2 separate regions of the Homo sapiens genome follow, and region 1 is linked to region 2. The links come from fine-mapping of genetic effects on gene expression. A gene starts in region 2. The other region holds a variant in brackets. All regions are shown on one strand. Distances are from middle to middle. Region 1 overlaps GPD2 (glycerol-3-phosphate dehydrogenase 2). Region 2 holds the start of NR4A2 (nuclear receptor subfamily 4 group A member 2).

Region 1 (10,715 bases), 120 kb before region 2:
TCCAGACTCATCTGTCTTCATCATTGCAGTTTTCTTTTTTGTTTTGTTTTTTGTTTTTGAGACAGAGTCTCACTCTGTCACCCAGGCTGCAGTGAAGTGGCGTGATCTCAGCTCACTGCAACCTCCACCTCCCGGGTTCAAGCGATTCTCCTGCCTCAGCCTCCCAAGTAGCTGGGATCACAGGCATGTGCCACCATGCCCAGCTAATTTTTGTATCTTTAGTAGAGCCATGGTTTTGCCATGTTAGCCAGGCTGGTCTCAAACTCCTGACCTCAGGTGATCCACCCGCCTCAGCCTCCCGAAGTGCTGGGATTACAGGCCCGGCCATCATTGCTGTTTTCTACAACTACATGAAGGCTCCAATTCCTCAACCACCTCACCTCTGATGACCTTTGTTTGACCCTACCTCATTATCATAACCTCTGATTTGGGCATCCCCACTATTTATATCAACTCCGCAGACTCCAGCCTCAAGCACCCTACACTGTAAACACCACCTTCTCTTTCTTCAGTTTATCTACTGTAGTCTGGAATTTCCATTCCACCATCTTGGCATTATCTGGCCCTTCAGTCCATTGACCCTACTATTTGCTTCACTATCAGTCACTTCTCCTGCTGCCTAGCTGAGAATTAAATTAGGTCCATCACTGTAATTTCTCCCTTCCAAGCACCCTTAACTCCCTTGCTCCTCTCTTCATGCTTCATTTTTACTTGGCAAACCCCCAAACCAGTTAAACCCAACTATCTGCCTGTTTCACATCTCCACCCAAACAGCTGAAGAAACTGCCTGGGAAAAAAAACATGCAACCACAACTGGCCTCAATTTAAATTCATAGCTGCAAATCATTAATGTGCAATCCACACTGACCCACAATCCTATTACATTTCCCCAGGATGTTTCAAAATAGCCATTTGAAATCTCTTTTCCCAAACCTGTTTCACCCCTCCACACCCCAATATCATCACACTTCACTGGGAAAGTAAAGTAGATGCAACTAGGTAAAAATTTCATCTTCCCACCACCCAAATGATGACTTATCCACCTCTGTACTCATTCTCTCTGCAGTCCTTCCTTTTACTAATAAAATGTGCCTGTTTCAAGTAAAGACCAATCATTCTATTTGTACACTAGATCCCCTTCCTTCCTGGCTCTTCAGAAATTTTATTTGTACAATTACCCACCACTCTCTCCTACCTTCATCAGCTCCTCTTCTCTACTTAATCATTTTGTCAGCATAGAAATTCACTGTATTATCCTCTAGTTCTAACAAACCCTCCCTTGACCAATATCCTCTTCCAAGAACTTTTCCACGTCTCTGCTTTCCTTCATAATGAAACTTCTTGAAAGAGTTCTCCCTCTCCCCTCTCCCCTCTCCCCACGGTCTCCCTCTCCCTCTCTTTCCATGGTCTCCCTCTGATGCCGAGCCGAAGCTGGACTGTACTGCTGCCATCTCGGCTCACTGCAACCTCCCTGCCTGATTCTCCTGCCTCAGCCTGCGATTGCAGGTGCGCGCCGCCGCGCCTGACTGGTTTTTGTATTTTTTTGGTGGAGACGGGGTTTTGCTGTGTTGGCCGGGCTGGTCTCCAGCTCCTAACCGCGAGTGATCCGCCAGCCTCGGCCTCCAGAGGTGCCGGGATTGCAGACGGAGTCTGGTTCACTCAGTGCTCAATGGTGCCCAGGCTGGAGTGAGGTGGCGTGATCTCGGCTCGCTACAACCTCCACCTCCCAGCCGCCTGCCTTGGCCTCCCAAAGTGCCAGGAGTGCAGCCTCTGCCCGGCCGCCACCCAGTCTGGGAAGTGAGGAGCGTCTCTGCCTGGCCACCCATCGTCTGGGACGTGAGGAGCCCCTCTGCCTGGCTGCCCAGTCTGGAAAGTGAGGAGCGTCTCTGCCCGGCCGCCATCCCATCTAGGAAGAGAGAAGCATCTCTGCCCGGCCGCCCATCGTCTGAGATGTGGGGAGCGCCTCTGCCCCGCCGCCCCGTCTGGGATGTGAGGAGCGCCTCTGCCCGGCCGCGACCCCGTCTGGGAGGTGAGGAGCGTCTCTGCCCGGCCGCCCCGTCTGAGAAGTGAGGAGACCCTCCGCCCATCTGAGAAGTGAGGAGCCCCTCCGCCTGGCAGCCACCCCGTCTGGGAAGTGAGGAGTGTCTCCGCCCGGCAGCCACCCTGTCTGGGAGGGAGGTGGGGGGGTCAGCCCCCCGCCCGGCCAGCCGCCCCGTCCGGGAGGGAGGTGGGGGGGTCAGCCCCCCGCCCTGCCAGCTGCCCCGTCCGGGAGGTGAGGGGCGCCTCTGCCCAGCCGCCCCTACTGGGAAGTGAGGAGCCCCTCTGCCGGGCCAGCCGCCCTGTCCGGGAAGGAGGTGGGGGGGTCAGACCCCCGCCCGGCCAGCCGCCCCGTCTGGGAGGGAGGTGGGGGGGTCAGCCCCCCCGCTCGGCCAGCCGCCCCTTCCGGGAGGGAGGTGGGGGGGTCAGCCCCCCGCCCGGCCAGCCGCCCCGTCCGGGAGGGAGGTGGGGGGGTCAGCCCCCCGCCCTGCCAGCTGCCCCGTCCGGGAGGTGAGGGGCGCCTCTGCCCAGCCGCCCCTACTGGGAAGTGAGGAGCACCCCCGCCCGGCCAGCCGCCCTGTCCGGAAAGGAGGTGGGGGGGTCAGCCCCCCGCCCTGCCAGCTGCCCCGTCCGGGAGGTGAGGGGCGCCTCTGCCCGGCCACCCCTACTGGGAGGTGAGGAGCCCCTCTGCCCGGCCACCACCCCGTCTGGGAGGTGTGCCCAGCAGCTCATTGAGAACGGGCCATGATGACAATGGCGGTTTTGTGGAATAGAACGGGGGGAAAGGTGGGGAAAAGATTGAGAAATCGGATGGTTGCCGTGTCTGTGTAGAAAGAAGTAGACATGGGAGACTTTTCATTTTGTTCTGTACTAAGAAAAATTCTTCTGCCTTGGGATCCTGTTGATCTGTGACCTTACCCCCAACCCTGTGCTCTCTGAAACATGTGCTGTGTCCACTCAGGGTTAAATGGATTAAGGGCGGTGCAAGATGTGCTTTGTTAAACAGATGCTTGAAGGCAGCATGCTCGTTAAGAGTCATCACCACTCCCTAATCTCAAGTACCCAGGGACACAAACACTGCGGAAGGCCGCAGGGTCCTCTGCCTAGGAAAACCAGAGACCTTTGTTCACTTGTTTATCTGCTGACCTTCCCTCCACTATTGTCCTGTGACCCTGCCAAATCCCCCTCTGCGAGAAACACCCAAGAATGAGCAATAAAAAAAAAAAAAAAAAGAGTTGTCTATAAGAACTGTCTCCACTTCCACAATTTAATCCAATAAACTTTGTCCCAGCCTCTTCTTAAACTATATGTCAAATTGTCAAAATCACAAATGACCTCATTTCACCAAATGTAATCTCTATAATTAACATAGTAGAACCGTCTCTTTTTTAATATCTTTTGAATTCTTAGCCTCAGAGACACCACGCTCTTCTGCTTTCCATCCCATCCCACTGGCAACTCCTCCTTCTCTTCTATATAATAGTTGCTCAATGGCCTGCTTCTCTCTATATACATTCTCTGTAGGTAACTCCATCCAGTATCAAATATAACCTATATGCAAATAATTCCTAAGTCTGTATCCTCAGCCAAACCCCTCTCAGAATCTCCAAACCCCATTCACCCAGTTGTCTGACATCTCCAAAGGAATATCTAATAATCACTTCAAACTTAGCCAAAGCAGAACACTTTATATCTTCCATCAAGTCTGCCTCTCTCCCAGCTCTCCCCTTCTCAGTAAGTGGACCAGCTCTCAAATAGAAAATGCAAGCCTTTCTTTTATTCTTCTTCCTTTCCTCCAAATAATCTAGCAGGCAAGTTCACCCAACTAATTCTATCTCAAAAATATATCCTGAATCTATCCACTTCTTTCTATGCTTTTTTCTCTTTGAGACAGAGTCTCACTCTGTCACCCAGGCTGGAGTGCAGTGGCACAATCTTGGCTCACTGCAACCTCCACCTCCCAGGTTCAAGGCTCCTGCCTCAGCCTCCCTAGTAGCTGGGATTACAGGCATGTGCCACCATGCCCGGCTTTTTTTTTTTTGTATATTTAGTAGAGATGGAGTTTTGCCATATTGGCCAGGCTGGTCTCGAACTCCTGGCCTCATGTGATTCACCCGCCTCAGCCTCCCAAAGTGCTGGGATTACAGGCATAAGCCACCACGCCCAGGCCACTTTTTTCTATCTTTAATACAATGGTTGTCCATTCAATAATAAGTTCTTGGTTGGGCAACCAAAACAGACTAACTAACTCCCACTTCCCATATTCTGTTTACTTGTAGCAGCCAGCATAATCTTTGATGGCATGTATTCTCAATGAGAGCAATATCACCCACAGTTGCTTCTTGGCAGGTGAAAAAATATTGCATATTACAATTGTCTGTGGCCCTCCAAACTTCAACTCTACCCAACAAAATCTTCTTAGCATTTAAGCAGTACTCTCTTGTTGGGGAGAAATTAAGTTTTTAATTAATTAATTTTAATTTAATTTTTCTTCTTGGAAAGGTACAGTGAGAAGAAATTAAGAAAGACTACTTTATAGCAAAACCACACAGTTTCTCTTGCCTGCATATAATCCTCTAATGGTTTCTAGCACCCTAGAATGAAATCTAAACATCTCACCTTGGATTATAAAGACCTATAGGATCCAGCCCTTCACTGCAGTAGGTTAAATAATGACGCCCACAACATATCCTCATCCTAATCCCTGGAACCTGTGAATGTTATAAGGAAAAAAAAAAATTCACCAATGTGATTAAATTAAGACCTTAAGAGGGAAAGGTTATTCTGAATTACCAGGGGGAACCCTAAATGTAATCACTTTACATCTTTGTAAGAAGAAGACAGGGTGATTTGATACAGATGAGAATGCAATGATGTGACCACAGAAGTAGAGACTGGAGTGATGCAGCCACAGCCAAGGAATGCCAGAAGCCACCAGAACCTGAAGGAGTTAAGGACCATATTCACTCCTCAGAAGGGAGCACATCCTGCTAACTCCTTAATTTTGGCACAGTGAAACTGACTTCAGATTTCCGGCATCCTGAATGATGAAAGAATAAATTTCTGTTGTTTTAAGCCACCAAGTTTGTGGTCATTTGTTACAGCAGCCACAGGACACCAATACAGACACCTCTCACTCTTACCCACTAAGTTCCAGATTTATTTGCCTTCTGATGTCTGTCAAATCAGGATTACTATTAGTGTTTTGGGGCCAGCTGCCTCTACCTGGAATGCTCTGCTCCTCAACTTTGCATGGCAAGCTCCTTCCAGTCATTCACGACTCAGCTTAAATGTCAAGTCCTCAGAGAGGCCTTCCCAAATTATTCAAATCCAAAGTATGCATACAACTCTTATCTTCTCATGTCTCTCCTTTATTTAAGCATTATTATTTCTTTGTTCCCCACTAAAACATAATTCTACAAGAACAGAAACTGTGTTTGTTTTGTACACCACTATAATCTTATTTGTAGAAAAATTGCTGACATAGGCCAGGCGCAGTGGCTCACGCCTGTAATCCCATCCCAGCACTTTGGGAGGCCAAGGTGGTGGATCACGAGGTCAGGAGCTCAAGACCAGCCTGACCAAGATGGTGAAACCCCGTCTCTACTAAAAATACAAAACAATTAGC[C/T]GGGCATGGTGGCAGGTGCTTGTAATCCCAGCTACTCGGGAGGCTGAGGCAGAGAATTGCTTGTACCTGGGAGGCGGAGGTTGCAATGAGCCGAGATCATGCCACTGCACTCCAGCCTGGGCAACAGAGCAAGAGTCAAAAAAAAAAAAAGGGAAAATTGCTGACACATATTAGGTGATTGATAGACCTAACAAACAAATGGATGGATGATGTAGGCAGTGAGAGAAAAGATGATGGCATTTGTCAATAAGGAAAGGAATAGCATGGGAAAGCAGGAAGAAATTATGGGTCCTGACTCAACTGTGGGACATGCAAGTGGAAATGCCTGAGTTCAGCGAATAAGTCTGCCCAAGAATGTTGACTTGGGATTGACTGAAATCAGGGATATTGATGAACTTGTTGAAAAAGCATCAACAGAGAAAAGAGAGTGAACTAAAGACAGACCCTGGGAATTCCAATATCAAGGCAAAGAACCTGCAGAGAGATCCATAAGGAGTAATCCAAGAGAAGATGTCACAGTAGCCTAGTGAAAACTCAGTTTCACAGAAAAGAGAATGAGCAGAATCATGGAAATTTTAAATAATAAAATCTCATTGATTTGTCAGTCAAGAGGACACTCATAATCATAACAAGAGCAGAGTTGGGCCAGGCTCACACCTGTAATCCCAGCACTTTGGGAGGCTAAGGAGGGAGAATCGCTCAAGCCCAGGAGTTCAAGACCAGCCTGGGCCACATGGCAAGGCTCCATCTCTATAAAAAAAGTAAAAATCAATCAGGTATGATGGCCTGAACCTGGGGTCCCAGCCACTCAGGAGGCTGACGTAGGAGGATCGCTTGAGCCCAGGAGTTCAAGGCTGCCATGAACTATGATTGTGCTACTGCAATCCAGCCTGAGTGACAGGATAAGACCCTGTCTCAGGAAAAAAAAAAAGAGAGAGATTCATCTGAGATCGAAGACAGATTCCAACAGTTGTGGAGGGAATGGAAGGTGAAGAAGTAGAAAAATAATGCACAAAAAGTACTTTAAGGAAGAACAGCTTGAAGGAAAGGAGAAAGAGAGCATGTAGCAAGAGGGCAGAATGGGGCACAGGTGCAATGTTGGTTATTGGTCTTGTTTGTTTTTGTAATGGGAGAATCTTGAGCATTCTTGTAAATATTTGAAATGCATCTCAGCATCTCCAACACAAACAAACAAATAAATACATGCAGGTAAGCATAGAAAAATGTCATAGAATAAGGCATCTGAAGGGAATGGGGGATCCAGAGTACGGGGGAAAGCATCAACTTCGGATAACCACCTCTAAGTCAAGAATTAATGAGGGGTTGATGGATTCAGATATAAAAATGATGTGGAAAGGAGAAAAATTTTAAGATTTGACATGTTATTTCAATTCTCTCAGAATAATAGAAGGCAAGGGCCGGGTGCTGTGGCTCATGTCTGTGATCCCAGCACTTTGGGAGGCCAAGGCAGGCAAATCACAAGTTCGAGACCAGCCTGGCCAACATGGTGAAACCTTGTCTCTACTAAAAATATAAAAATTAGCCAGGCATGGTGGCACGTACCTGTAATCCCAGCTACTCTGGAGGCTGAGGCTTAAACCCAGGAGGCAGAGGTTGCAGTGAGCCAAGATCGTGCCACTGCATTCCAGCCTGGGTGCCAGAGCCAGACTCCATCTTAAAAAAAAAAAAAATGCAAGGACACTGTGAAGGGGACAGCTAAGTCATTATCAAAAATGCATATTCTCTTCTTCCTGGACTTGCAGCTAGACTACATGTGCCAATCTCCCTTTCAGCTAAGTATCACTACACAACAGACTTCCAGCCAATGGTATATGAACAGAACTAATGCATTCATTTCAAGATTATGTGTTTAAGGCCAGGCGCAGTGGCTCACACCTGTAATCCCAGCACTTGGAGAGGTTGAGGCGGGCGGACTGCCTGAGGTCAGGAGTTCGAGACCAGCCTGGTCAACATGGCAAAACCCCATCTCTACTAAAAATACAAATATTAGCCGGGCATGGTGGCACATGCCTATAATCCCAGCTACTTGGGAGGCTGAGGCAGGAGAATCGCTCAAGCCCAGGAGGCAGAGGTTGCAGTGAGCTGAGATCGTCCCACTGCACTCAACCTGGGCAACAGAGCGAGACTCATCTCAAAAAAAATAAGTGTGTGTTTAGAAAGTAGATATGCTTCCTGCCTTTCCCTTTCACCATCCACTGGCTGGCTGTAGTTGAAAAGAAAGCCCTAAGGAATTGCTGAGTCATAAAATGGAAGAATCCAGAGTGCCTGAATCATTGAAAGGAAAGTGATCCACCAACAAAGACCATGATATAAGCAAAAATTAAACTTGTGCTTGAGCTTGTATCTATTTTCAGGCCTTTCAGTTATGATGGTTGAGCCTACCCTAACCACTAACCATCATCTTTTAATAAAGAAATGCCTGGGTGACATAAAAGACTCAAAGAAAATGCTGAAAGTTTGAAAAAAACTACAGCAAGAAATAGAAAAAGGTATTGTGTAGAAAAAGGTAAGATAACTCTCTCATGACTAAGGCTGGAGAACATACATTTTTATACATCTCCAATACACATAATCATTTTCGTTTTCACAATAACCATCAGAAACCCAAGTATAGGAGTAGAAAAGAAGACTGATACCAAGTTGCACATTGCTTCTACATCCATTAAGACTAAGAAAATTTTAACAACTTCGTGGATTCCTACAAGTCAAATCATAAGCAATGTCATTATAGGCATGCTGTGCTATGTATGCAACTATTTAAACAAGTTCAGCATCATTGGTGAAAACTGGTGAACTACAAGGTAAAGTATTAGGAAGTGTAAGTGTTAAATGGCACAGTTCAATGGTTGGGCAGTGGAATACAATGTTGCAAAAGTCAAGAAATACATTACAGAAATAGGAATAGGATTATCTCTCGATTCTATTGTTTTTAAAACAGTTTTTAAGGGAGTTTCTGCCATACCAGAAAATAACCACATGCATGGCTTTAAGTCCCTTAACTTCTCTGTGCCTTTTTGCTCCCTGATATGACAGGGTTCACTGTTGATACATTAAAAAATGTGCACAAAGTACTCAGCACAGTGCCTAGAAAATGGCAACTGCTTAATAAATACTTGTCATTGCTGTTTATTATTAATAAGAAAAAGACCACGTTAGGTTAAATTGCTAAACTCCTTCCTATTTTAAAATTCTGTGAATCTGGCCAGGCACAGGGGCTCATGCCTGTAATCCCAGCACTTCTGAGGCAAAGGCAGGAGGATCACTTGAGGCCAGGAGTTCAAGACCAGCCTGGGCAACATAGTGAGACACTGTCTCTAAGAATTTTTTTTAAATTAGCCAGGCATGGTGGCACACACCTGTCATTCTAGCTACTCAGGAGGTTGAGGAGAAGAATCGCGTGACGTAGGAGTGCAAAGCTGCAGTGAGCTATAAATGTGCCACTGCACTCCTGCCTGGGCAGCAGAGCAAGACTCTGTCTTTAAAAATAATAATAAATAAAATTATGTTAGTGTGTGTGTGTGTGTGTGTATTTGTTTTTGAGACAGTCTTGTTCCGTTGCCCAGGCTGGAGTGCAATGGCGTGGTCTCCGCTCACTGCAACCTCCACCTCCCAGCTTCAAGCAATTCTCATGCCTCAGCCTCCCGAGTAGCTAGGAATACAGGCACCCACCACCACGCCTAGCTTATTTTGGTATTTTTAGTAGAGACAGGGTTTTGCCACGTTGGCCAGGCTGGTCTCAAACTCCTGGCCTCAAGCAATCCACCTGCCTCGGCCTCCCAAAGTGCTGGGATTACAGGCATGAGCCACTGCCCCCTGCGGAATCTATATTTTTTAGATAAGTATCCCAGCTACTTAATGGCGGATGGGGATGGGGAAAAGGGGTTAATACTAGCAAACACAGTGAAAGAAAAAAGTGAAAATATACTTGTTATGATAGGTCCTATGAGCATAATCCTGAAGAGAGATAAAAGGAATGTGGCAGCCTCTAGATGTGAATGCTATACCTGGAGAGGCTGAGAGCAAGGAAACCCCAAACTCCAGGTAATAAAAGGAAAATCTAGGCCAGGGTCCAGAGGCAAACAGAACCCAGTGGCCATGACTGGCTTCCTTTTAGGCAGGACAAGAGAAATAAACATTTCATGCTCTCCATGGACTTCAAATTCATCCAGTCCAGCCACCTTATTTGACAAGGAGAAAAGTGAAAGGTCCAGACAGTGACCAAAGCCACACTTGAGTGGCTATAATGTGGCTGCAGGGATGCTCAGAAGTAGGCACTGCCCACCTTTGACCTAGCCCACATAAATGGTCCCCAATGCGCTGTCCCCATAGAATCCAACGCCTTTGATAAGGGGGACAAGGTAATTTTTGTAAGTCATCTTGTTAGGAATTCATTTTCCAGATTCTTTCTTAAGAGATTGGATTAGGTGGGTAAGTAGGGGGAAGGGAGAAATTGGTGAAGAGAAGGAAGCCCTGGTGTCCTGACAGAGGTGCTGAGTCCTCAGTGGACATTAAGTGGCCTCCTTATTTGTAGATTCCTCCACTGATTTTCTTCAAGGATTCCTTTTATAATGTCACTTCGCCCCTTCCCTCTCCTAAATATCCTTAAGATATTAAACCTCTCAGCACCTTGGGAGGGAAAAAAATTTTGAAATAAAAATAAAAAGATTAAAACTGCCAAATGTGTAGGGAGGGAGATGCCTAAAAAAAGATGAAGCTTAAAGTATCCAGTTGAATAGATTACCTGAAATACACCTGCCTGTGTGGTATCTGGTGTCCAATCACACCCAGCACACTCTTATCACTTATTGCTGAATTGGGGATGACTGAATTATGGGGCAACCATTAATGAACAACTGCTTACTAGGTGTCACCCACATGAAAGGCACTTGGATTAGGCATGTGAGGTCTACAAAATTGTGTAAGATCCAGCATGATCTTCCATAGGAAAGAAAATTATGCATGCTTGCAAATAATTACAGGAGACAAGCATCTATAAGGGAATTATGAGTAGCATAAAAAGAGTAGCTAA
Region 2 (10,715 bases):
TTTTCACATCATTACTCTGGTGCTGCTTGATGTAACTTGATTAGCTCCCTCCCCAGTCATGATTGGTAATTAAAATAGGCATTAAAATTAGTCACTTAGCAATTTTGCTGTTCAATTGGCAATTAAATTACTTAATTGCAATTAAAGTCCTAATTTTAATTGGCAAAATGATAGATGTAGATTTAAGATAATATGTATAAATACTTTAATAAGTGTCTATATAAGGATTACTTAATTACTCAACTTCAAGTTTATGCTGTTAACTTTAGAACTTTTAAGTGAGCAATGAAATTTATATTACATCTATTCAAAGGATATGGTAATTAGATTTATTACTTATCACTATAAGGGTCCTTGCTTTAAGTTACTTTTGTAGTGTTAAAATTGTAGGCTTGATAATTGCAGAATTCTGATGAGAAAAAGGGCATATATGTCTCTGTTGCAATATTATCAATACCTTCATTTTTAAAATTAAATTGAGACATTCCATCCACCAATTAGTCTGAGGAAAAAATCAAAAGTGGTTATTTTATCATTAAAGATAGAACAAAAACTAGCCAGCTTGTGATTTACATATAAAAACTTGCAAAATGTATGTATTTTATCTAAATTTAAATAAATGCTATCTAATACTGGTAGTGTTATAATGCTATTAACTACTTTTAGAATTTGCAGATATTTGATGTTTTCTTAGCATGTAGCAACTTATTTTCATAATCTTTAAACTGTCTTTTAGGACTTTGTACATTTTAGTGATGCCTATGTTTACTAAAATTAGCAATGAAATCTAAAACCAAAGTTATTCTTCTTTGCCTAATAAAAAATAGTTCTTAAATAAGAAAATATTAAGTGGTTAATTTAAAAGCAAGTATTTAGGAGATGGTTACTGGGTGTCAAGTATTAACAAAAAATGAAGGATTTTTATTATGCAAAATACTTTTTGAGTGGCATGAGGTTTTACCATATGTTCAGTTTTATAATTTCAATTTACAAGAAGATGCTTCCAGAAAAAAGAATGCTGTTTTTTTTCTGCACATCTTTACACATTTCTAGTACTGAGTTCTGTATCAAAGAAAGAAATAATTTTAAAAGTATTTGTGTTAAGTGGTTTTTGGTAAAAATCGGCTGAGAAATACTGAATAAAAGCTACAACTATCCAAAATGTGAATATTAACAAAGCAATTGACTTGTTCTTTAACCATCCTATGAGAAAGGAACAAACAATTTGGTCAATTACTATCCTGTCAATGCAAATGAAATGGCAAAAGCAAAACAATAAAAACACTTTCAGAAGTAAAAACTAATTTTGTATTTTCAGAAACAGATTTTTTTCAAAGTGAAAATTTATTTCTTGTATCAGTAATGTGACTTACTGCCCAATGGCAACAAATGCTGTGAATGAGTTTGTCCAAATGTAATTTAAAATATATATCTTGTAATGCTAAAAATAGGTTCTACAAAGTAATTTTATTATGAAAAATCTTAAAGTTGCCTCAACTCGTAAAGCATAACAGGTATGTCTGTTTCACTATATCTGCATTGTAAGGTCTATTCTGAATTCATTTGGGAAGAATGGTGAAATAAATCCCTAAAGGCCTCTTTCCTATGCATTAAAATAGAAAATCCTATGGGATTACATTCATGTTTGCTTTCTAAATTATGCCAAAAGCTCAATTTTATTAAGTATAATCTGCCTAGCCATGCATAAAATAAACTACTTTGGTTTAGATGTGAGTATATGTATTATTTATGTTGATTTTTAATGAAAATATGTTTACATGTACCAATATGTTCTGCCTAATATTGGTTAATGTCATAAAAGATAATATAGTAACATTACTTTCCTAAATGTTTTTCTGTGGTCATCCAATAGTGTTTCTTAATAGTAATGCTTTTTAATTTATTTTAGTTGGTTTCAAAAGAGGATAGGTGCAATTTTTACTCCCACTCATTTTAAAAACTGTTAAGAAAATAGACCTTCATTGTGGGGTAACTTTACACATTTATACATGGCAATAGTTTAAAGTTATATCGGCTGCGGGGGCCTGAAAAAGCCATTATTGTCATTTTAATTGAGTTATAAAATACTTTATTTGAACTATTTATGTTCAAGAATCTTGAAGGGTTACAGTCATATAAATGCAGAATTTCAGTTTCTTTTAGCCTAAAGCATCGTTTTAACATTTTCTGAAAGGTTGTTCAATTCTACATTTTGATTCCATATGTGTAATTAAATCTCTATGCACAAAAGCATTCTCTTATGTACTAGCAAATATACCCACAGGAATCTCCTTCTAAACTATAATTTATTTAACATGTAATCATAGGATTTTAAAACATGCTTTCATTTTTCCAAACTGTATGCCAATTTGAACTTCTTGGTGATAAAATGAGAGATTTTATTACCAGTTTGATTTTTTCCTTCTGTGACCTAACAGTGAGTTAAGCATGAGCAGGAGGAAATAAAGAAAATCTTTTGTGAACCTAATCCCATGTGTTAAAACTGTTTCCCTTTTGGAGAAAATAGAAGAGAATCAAAGATTTTTAGTTATTTATGAATTCCAGCACAATATGAATATTTGGGCCTGCAGCATTCTCTTTGGTTTAGCTTAGGTAGTAAATAGCTTGTGTGTGTGTGTGTGTGTGTGTGTGTGTGTGTGTGTGTGTGTGTGTGTGAGTGATTCTCTTGAACGTTGTGGAGTCAGGCCCCCTACTGACTGGATCAGTCAATTACACACACATTGGCGGTGCTACTGAGACATCGTCCCATCAGAATCTGGTGAGGAAAACTAGTCTGGGGTTTTGAGCGTGGCCTTTTTTTTTTTTTTAAACACTTCTGATCTATATGCTGAATCCTTTCCAACCCATCTCATCCGGGCCTTACAGAAACCCTAGCCTAAGAAGTAGCTTATTCAAAATTGGTTTAAACGAGTTTAACAGTCTTACATCCGGCGTGTCTTCCTAAGAAACAGTAAAAGCTTCCCAGAAACCAGAATAGGACTTTGAAGAGGAGAGAACTCTTACACAGATGATGGAATAGATGAGAAAGGTCTCCCCTTTCTCTCATTTTAATTTATATTTAATTTTATATTTAATTATATTCCCAGTTAATAATAATTGTTATAATAAGCTGCTGTGAAAACGACCCTTCATTCTTGGTTGCATTAAGACTTGGACAAAGGCTGTTATCAGGAAGCCGCACTCGACAGGTTGTTATTAAAGAATAAGGCATCATATTACAATGTTTGGCTTCCTTGGAGCTCACTTTAAGAACTCCAGGACACTTTTCAGCTCTCTGGGGAGGCATTTTCAAATTGTCCCAGGCTCAACCCAACCTAAACTGAATGTGTTTTTAATGGCAATGAGGGAGGGGGAAGCGTGCAGAGTGAATGTATCTACTTAGACGGGAGTATGTGTATGGAGGCTGGTGGTTACAACCTTCAAGTTCTCCCGGCCCCCGTTTTCCTAGGACTATATTAAAAAATAATAACTGCCACCCCGGCGTGCCTGTGCTTGAGTTTCCGACTGCCTGAAAATAGCGGCCGGGAGCCTGGCCCACCGCGGGGATCAAGGAAAGCTTCCCGTGGCCGCGCCCTGCTCCCTCGCGGAAGGGGAAGGGAACCCGGGAGGGCGCCTCTGAGCTGGAGTTGCTGCTATTTTGGGCCCAGCCTGGCCGGTGCGTCAATGCCTGCGCCCCTGCGTCACCGCCACCCCCACCCCCTTCCTTCTCCCCAGCTCTCCAAACTCTCACTTTTTCCCTTTCGTTCGCATGGAATCGCTTCTGCCCACGGGGCGCTGACGCTACCGAGCTCATGCTAATATGCTATTCTTCGCCCTCCCCTCCTCATCCCCCTACTCACACACCCTCACCCGCCACCACAACCCGCCCCCCCCACCCACTTCCTGGTTTTATTTTTTTTCTCGCGCCCGCTAGGGCATCGCCGAGCAGCGGCGGCGGCGGCAGCAGCAGCGGCAGCCGCAACATCTGGGGGAAACTTAAGGTGGTCACGTAGGTTTCCCCGAGGCTGCGGCGCAAAAGAGCCCGCGGCTTCCTGGGGCAGCCGCAGGGCATCTGATGGCAACGCCTCCCCAGCCGCCGGCGAGCTGGGGGCAGCAGGGAGTAGGCAAAGGCGGGGCTGCAGATTAGGGTTGAGCAGCCCGGGATCCCGAATAGTTCCACGGAGCCATCGGCCGGTACTGAGAACACGAGTAGGGGGGCAAGTTGCAAAAGGGTCCCGGCTGCCTGGAAACGAGCCACACCGAGAAAGGAGGGGCGGCTGGGACGCTCTGCGCGAGTAGAAAAGCGGGGGCGGCTCCGAACTCTCCCTCCCAAGGCCCAGCCGCTGGAAGCCCCGCGGGAGAAGCCCTAGGAAGCCCTCCCAGCTCCGGCCGGGAGACGGGGAGGGGGCTTGCCCTCCGGAGCTGCGGCGTTTCCTTTGCTAGAAAGCTCCCTGCGCTCTCGGCGTGGCTAGGGGAAATGACTTGCAAAGCAGAAGCGGCGGCGACTTGGACGGCCGCGGGGGTGGGACACGCTCCCAGAGCCAGCTCGGGCCCCTCTCCTGGCTGGGCTGTAGGCTCACACCTTACGCTTTGCGGAGACGCTGCCCCCAATCCCCACCCGCTTCGCTTTTCTTGTCCAGTCTTTCTGGGCTCTAAGATTGAGGCTGTGATAGACCTTGTGTTTCAAACGAAGATCGATTTATTCCCTTAAAACTCGTGGAAGGGGTACGAGTTGGTGGGCACAGAGGAGTATCGAAAGTATTAGAGTTTGCAGAAGGTGGGAATCAGAGTACCTTTCTGCAGAAGGCGCACCTGTTGCCTGCTGCTCGGCTGCATTGTCTGCGAAAGGAAAAGGGGCGACGCTTCACTCTGACTTTTGGGGTTTCTAAAGAGCTGGGTCACGGTCACTGTCTACCCTCTCCCCTTCCTCTCCCCCCCCCCCGCAAGCACCACGTCCTCCATCGAACGTGGGCACTGCATGGAAATAAGGAAACATAGAAAAATAAGCCCTACCCCCACTCCCATTCCCTTTCAGATGGGAGTGTGGGGGGTGGGGGTGGGGTAGAGAGAGTGAGAGAGAGAGATAATTAGAATGAATATATGCCAGAAGAGGAGGAGGCCTGGGACAGGAAAAGGGAGTAAAAGGGGATGAACCGGGTAGGGAAATCCCACCCGAACTGCGTGAGCCCTCTGAGCGTCTCGTGTCATGGGACATCTGTACGCTCTTCCGCTAAGGGGGTGACGAAGGTGGGTGGGAGAGGTTAGGGCGCTGCAAGGCACATCCCATTCCGTGCGGCTCCAGGTGCGTACTACCTGGCCACGCCGGCCTTGCCTTCCGCCGGTGCTTTTGTTGCACCCTCCCCACATGTGAGCGGCCGAGCCGCTGCGCGGGCGCAGGGGCTTCGGGGAAAGTGAAGTGTCGCGACGCTGCGGGCTGCGCAGACCTGGGAGAGGTCACACCTCTTTCGGAAAAAAAAAAAGAAAAGAAAAAAAACACCAAAAACCACCCAAGCTGGCTACCAAGGTGAACGCAGAGCGGTTCCCACCTTAAAATCGGCCCTGCTCGTGACGTCAGGTCGGAAATATACCAAAGCGAGCGCGGGCCAGGAGTCCAGGGAGCGCGGCAGCGCGGCGATTGGGCGGCGGGCCGCTGACGCGCGCTGACGCGCGGAGACTTTAGGTGCATGTTGGCAGCGGCAGCGCAAGCCACATAAACAAAGGCACATTGGCGGCCAGGGCCAGTCCGCCCGGCGGCTCGCGCACGGCTCCGCGGTCCCTTTTGCCTGTCCAGCCGGCCGCCTGTCCCTGCTCCCTCCCTCCGTGAGGTGTCCGGGTTCCCTTCGCCCAGCTCTCCCACCCCTACCCGACCCCGGCGCCCGGGCTCCCAGAGGGAACTGCACTTCGGCAGAGTTGAATGAATGAAGACAGACGCGGAGAACTCCTAAGTGAGTAGATGCAGCCCATGCAGTTCGCCTTCTTTTATGCTTTTTCCTTCTTTTGCACGTCTCTTCTTTCCACTTGTGTGGGACAGGTTCTCTGGAAGTGGGAGCCAGAGGCTTCTAGTGAGAGTGGGACCGAAGGATGGGGAGTGCGTGCGCGCAGTTACCGGGGGGCATTTGTTCGAACTCCGGCTTTGGCACTAGTGGGGAGTTGGCTCTCGACAGAGGTTTCCAGGCTCCTCATTGGTGGACGTGGAAGGGAGACTCCACAGTTTGGGAGCTGAGGACTAGCCCGCGGAAATGTGCGCAAAGTTTGCTGTTAGTGAGGAATTGATTGTGGCCTGTGAACACGGAGACTCCAAGTCCTATGTATACGAGGGAAGCTGCCCACAAACTGACAGGGAGAGGAAGTTCTTCAGTTTATGCGTTGCTTGGGAACTGTGTCTCCGCGGCTGGCCAGCGCGCGATGTTTCCCGGGTATTGTTGAGTAAGGGTGGTGTTGGTAGCGTGTCCTGTTACTAAGTTGCCTGAAATTTCTGGTTTTGACATATGCTGTCCTTGGGTTTGCGAATGTATCAGAGCGAGAATATGAATATGTAAAGAGTACAGTTATGAAACTGTGGAGCTACCAGGGGGTTAATATCCAACACAGGAATATCTCTAAGGGCTGTGGGGTTCGAGTCTCCTTTCTGCTTTTTCTGGGTAATCTTCCCCCCACCCCCACCACCACTATGAAGCAAGATTGTGGGGGAGGGGAAAGAATAAAAAGAGAGGATACTGGCTTTCTTTTTTCATTAGTAATAAGATTGTCTGTGCTCTAGAATGTCTTCCAAGTGGGAACATCTGAAAATTGCTAGGACACAAGAATGCCTTGTTCCAGAAAGGCAGATTGTGGAAGGCATTATGGGGAAGGTGTTCATCTTGCTGTGCTGGGAAACACTTCTAATATTGGTGCCAATACCATATAAGCAGTATGTCCCCCCTCTGCAATTGACCTAAGAAGCTCCTGGAAAAGTAGATCCCCTCTTCCCACCTTGTGACCATTAAGCCTTGTGACCATTAAAGATGCTGAAAGACAAGTTTTCTGGAAAAGTGAACATCAATTTATCTGTAGCTCCAATCCCAGTGCTCTGTCAAAAGCACTTTAGAAGTGCGGATGCTTCCACTCAACTTGCCTTCTCAGTCAAGGCCTTTCTAACATTTTGTAAGGGGGAAGATTGTTTTCTCATTTTATATTCTTGACTTCTACTTTCTTCCCCTCTACCAAAAGAAAAGGCAATTTCACCACAAGAAAAAAAAATGCAAGAGAAGGTTCCAATGCTGTATTTTCATACTCTAGTCTTCATACTCAGGTCCTGAATTAACCTAAGATGGAAATGACCTCTCCACCTACACTGTAGCAAAGGGGCCAGTTCATTACATCATAAATGTTAAATGAGTTCATGGACTAGCTTTCCTCTTGCAGGATCTTCTCTCTGCAAGGATTTACACAGTGCAATGGGTGGTATTTTCTGTTGTTTCAAGTCATTTCTTTTATACATTCATTTTAAGTGCTATGTTTGGTAAAGGCTTCCCACTCATTTCCAATGAGACAAACAGGGAAGGCATGGAAGGGCCTGCCTGGTGAGTCTACATATGCCCAGCTGAATCTCTGTCGGGAAGAAACCCTGAAGCTTCCTGTGTCTGTATTTCAGGGAGGAGATTGGACAGGCTGGACTCCCCATTGCTTTTCTAAAAATCTTGGAAACTTTGTCCTTCATTGAATTACGACACTGTCCACCTTTAATTTCCTCGAAAACGCCTGTAACTCGGCTGAAGGTTAGTGCAACTTCATTTCTTTCCTTTACTCTCCAGAGCTCCCCAAACATCAAGAAACAGGACAAGGCAAACCCTGTAACTTAAGGTTTGCCCGACCCATCGCCTTCGGGAACAACTTTCTCATTGTGAAATTCAACTTCATTTCTAGATGGTCATTTCTAGAAAGAGACTGCTGAATCTGAGCTTCAGAGAAGAGGCTCATCTGAGTGGGATGAGTGGGGGGGTATGAGGGAGATGTTTGGAAATACCCAGGAGTGTAGACCCTCAGTAGCTTTTTAGCTCTGGGTCTTTATTTGGTTAGTCTTTCCACGCCCTAAACTGTTGTTCTGCAGCATTCTCTCTCTCCTGCCTTTCCTCTCGCGCCCCTACATGCTCTCTGACTGCCGCGGGCTGCCGGTGTAGCTCCAGGTGTACCCGAGCCCGGGAGAAAGTGTTCAGTTGACCAGGCTGAGTGTGTTATCACCCTGTTTCATTTCCAGCCATGCCTTGTGTTCAGGCGCAGTATGGGTCCTCGCCTCAAGGAGCCAGCCCCGCTTCTCAGAGCTACAGTTACCACTCTTCGGGAGAATACAGCTCCGATTTCTTAACTCCAGAGTTTGTCAAGTTTAGCATGGACCTCACCAACACTGAAATCACTGCCACCACTTCTCTCCCCAGCTTCAGTACCTTTATGGACAACTACAGCACAGGCTACGACGTCAAGCCACCTTGCTTGTACCAAATGCCCCTGTCCGGACAGCAGTCCTCCATTAAGGTAGAAGACATTCAGATGCACAACTACCAGCAACACAGCCACCTGCCCCCCCAGTCTGAGGAGATGATGCCGCACTCCGGGTCGGTTTACTACAAGCCCTCCTCGCCCCCGACGCCCACCACCCCGGGCTTCCAGGTGCAGCACAGCCCCATGTGGGACGACCCGGGATCTCTCCACAACTTCCACCAGAACTACGTGGCCACTACGCACATGATCGAGCAGAGGAAAACGCCAGTCTCCCGCCTCTCCCTCTTCTCCTTTAAGCAATCGCCCCCTGGCACCCCGGTGTCTAGTTGCCAGATGCGCTTCGACGGGCCCCTGCACGTCCCCATGAACCCGGAGCCCGCCGGCAGCCACCACGTGGTGGACGGGCAGACCTTCGCTGTGCCCAACCCCATTCGCAAGCCCGCGTCCATGGGCTTCCCGGGCCTGCAGATCGGCCACGCGTCTCAGCTGCTCGACACGCAGGTGCCCTCACCGCCGTCGCGGGGCTCCCCCTCCAACGAGGGGCTGTGCGCTGTGTGTGGGGACAACGCGGCCTGCCAACACTACGGCGTGCGCACCTGTGAGGGCTGCAAAGGCTTCTTTAAGGTGAGCAATGGCGGGAGCGGAGTAGGCAGGTAGGGAGCCCCTAGTGCCCGGGACCTCGGAGTGTGCCCTCTGCCTTGGTGCCAGTAGCCCAGCCCCAGCTCTCCCGGGACTGCCCAGCTCTCCGGGGTCCGCCGAAGCTGCCCTGCAGGAGACCATGGGCTGCGGCGGGGACTTCCGGGTGTCTGAGAAAGGGAAGCAGAAAGACTGGGAGGCCAGGGTCGCATCCCCCTCGCATTCAGCCGACCCGGCTGGCCCCCGCCCGAAGTTGCTGGAGCCGGAGTTGGAAGAGGGTCATTTGCATGTGCTAGGAGCTGTCTTCCCTGTTCAGAATGAAATTGGTTAGGACAGAGAACCGTGTCTGAGCTAACCAAGTGGAACAGAATTCCCTATGGTCAAATTAAGTGATCTCTTTATTTCGCCATCCTGATTGAATAATCTTATCATTTTAAATAGAGAAGGTCTCCAAGGAATGTAAATAATATGAATGCCCACGGATTTGTATTTACTGAGCGTCTCCTTCTCCTTCTCTTGGCATATAAAACACAGCAAGGAGCGGCAAGGTTAGCTCAAATGTTAACGCTATCAATTTTCTTCTGTTAAATGCCCTGGGGGAGGAAAAAAGAAAAGAAAGAAAGAAAAGGAAGAGAAAAAAATAAAATGGAATTGTGTGTATGTGTTTGTTTGTGGGGAGGAATCGTAGACCCCAGTCACATAACAGAAATTTTCTCCGAGTTGCCTGATTTTCAAAAGAAGAAAAAAAATGTTGGTCTATATTGTCTCCTTTTGCAGCGCACAGTGCAAAAAAATGCAAAATACGTGTGTTTAGCAAATAAAAACTGCCCAGTGGACAAGCGTCGCCGGAATCGCTGTCAGTACTGCCGATTTCAGAAGTGCCTGGCTGTTGGGATGGTCAAAGAAGGTAGGCTGAGGGGAGCTGCCGACCCTCCAGTTTGCGCCTTTAGGAAACCACTGCTCATACTCCAGCATCACGTTCCACTTCCCGGTGCTGGGGATCTCCGACTCCCCCTCAGTATGGCCTCCAGGACCCTGCAGCTGCCTGCTTGCCCGGCCTTCCCTAGAGAAAGCCGCCAGGCCCTTCTCTCCTTTAACTATACGACCCATTTGGAGGAAGACATAAAATAACCCCGCATTTTTTAATGCTTCTAGTCAGTGAAGGCTTTACAAGCACTGGGGCCCTCAGCCGCTCAGCCTGGTGCCCCGCGGCTGCGGCCTTCCCCGGGGAGGGACCGAGGCAGCAGCTGGGCCTGGGCTCGGAAAAGCGGCGCTAACAGGGCTCTTCCTTTGCAGTGGTTCGCACAGACAGTTTAAAAGGCCGGAGAGGTCGTTTGCCCTCGAAACCGAAGAGCCCACAGGAGCCCTCTCCCCCTTCGCCCCCGGTGAGTCTGATCAGTGCCCTCGTCAGGGCCCATGTCGACTCCAACCCGGCTATGACCAGCCTGGACTATTCCAGGGTAAGAAGCTGGCGGGGGGGATATCATGTGGACAAACCGACAGATGGGCAGGACCCCTCCCCACATCCGTCATTAACTCTCAGATTCAACGGGGGTAAAGAAGGCAAGCAAGGCTGTATATGCCTCGCAGCTCTGGCCAGG

The links. PIP is the estimated chance that this variant, and not a neighbour inherited with it, causes the effect. A credible set is the group of variants that fine-mapping cannot tell apart.
Region 1: its variant is the best candidate, but not a certain one, in a credible set for the expression of NR4A2 in whole blood (INTERVAL, PIP 0.67).

The regions. Positions count from the first base shown.
Region 1 is chr2:156,443,220-156,453,934 of GRCh38, reverse strand. All of the region lies in intron 1 of GPD2 (glycerol-3-phosphate dehydrogenase 2), which reads right to left. Among named protein-coding and RNA genes, the nearest start is that of GPD2, 12 kb to the right of the region's middle. RefSeq lists an enhancer at 7,859-7,918. The variant C/T (reference allele first, on the strand shown) is at 5,666.
Region 2 is chr2:156,327,710-156,338,424 of GRCh38, reverse strand. NR4A2 (nuclear receptor subfamily 4 group A member 2) reads left to right here and starts at 5,704. Exons shown (of 8, transcript NM_006186.4): 1 at 5,704-5,945; 2 at 7,634-7,757; 3 at 8,237-9,102; 4 at 9,892-10,021; 5 at 10,411-10,574. The coding sequence starts at 8,239. FLJ46875 (a long non-coding RNA gene) reads left to right here. Exons shown (of 1, transcript NR_147695.1): 1 at 1-1,853. RefSeq lists enhancers at 3,443-3,542, 3,101-3,973, 5,443-5,522 and a silencer at 5,753-5,952.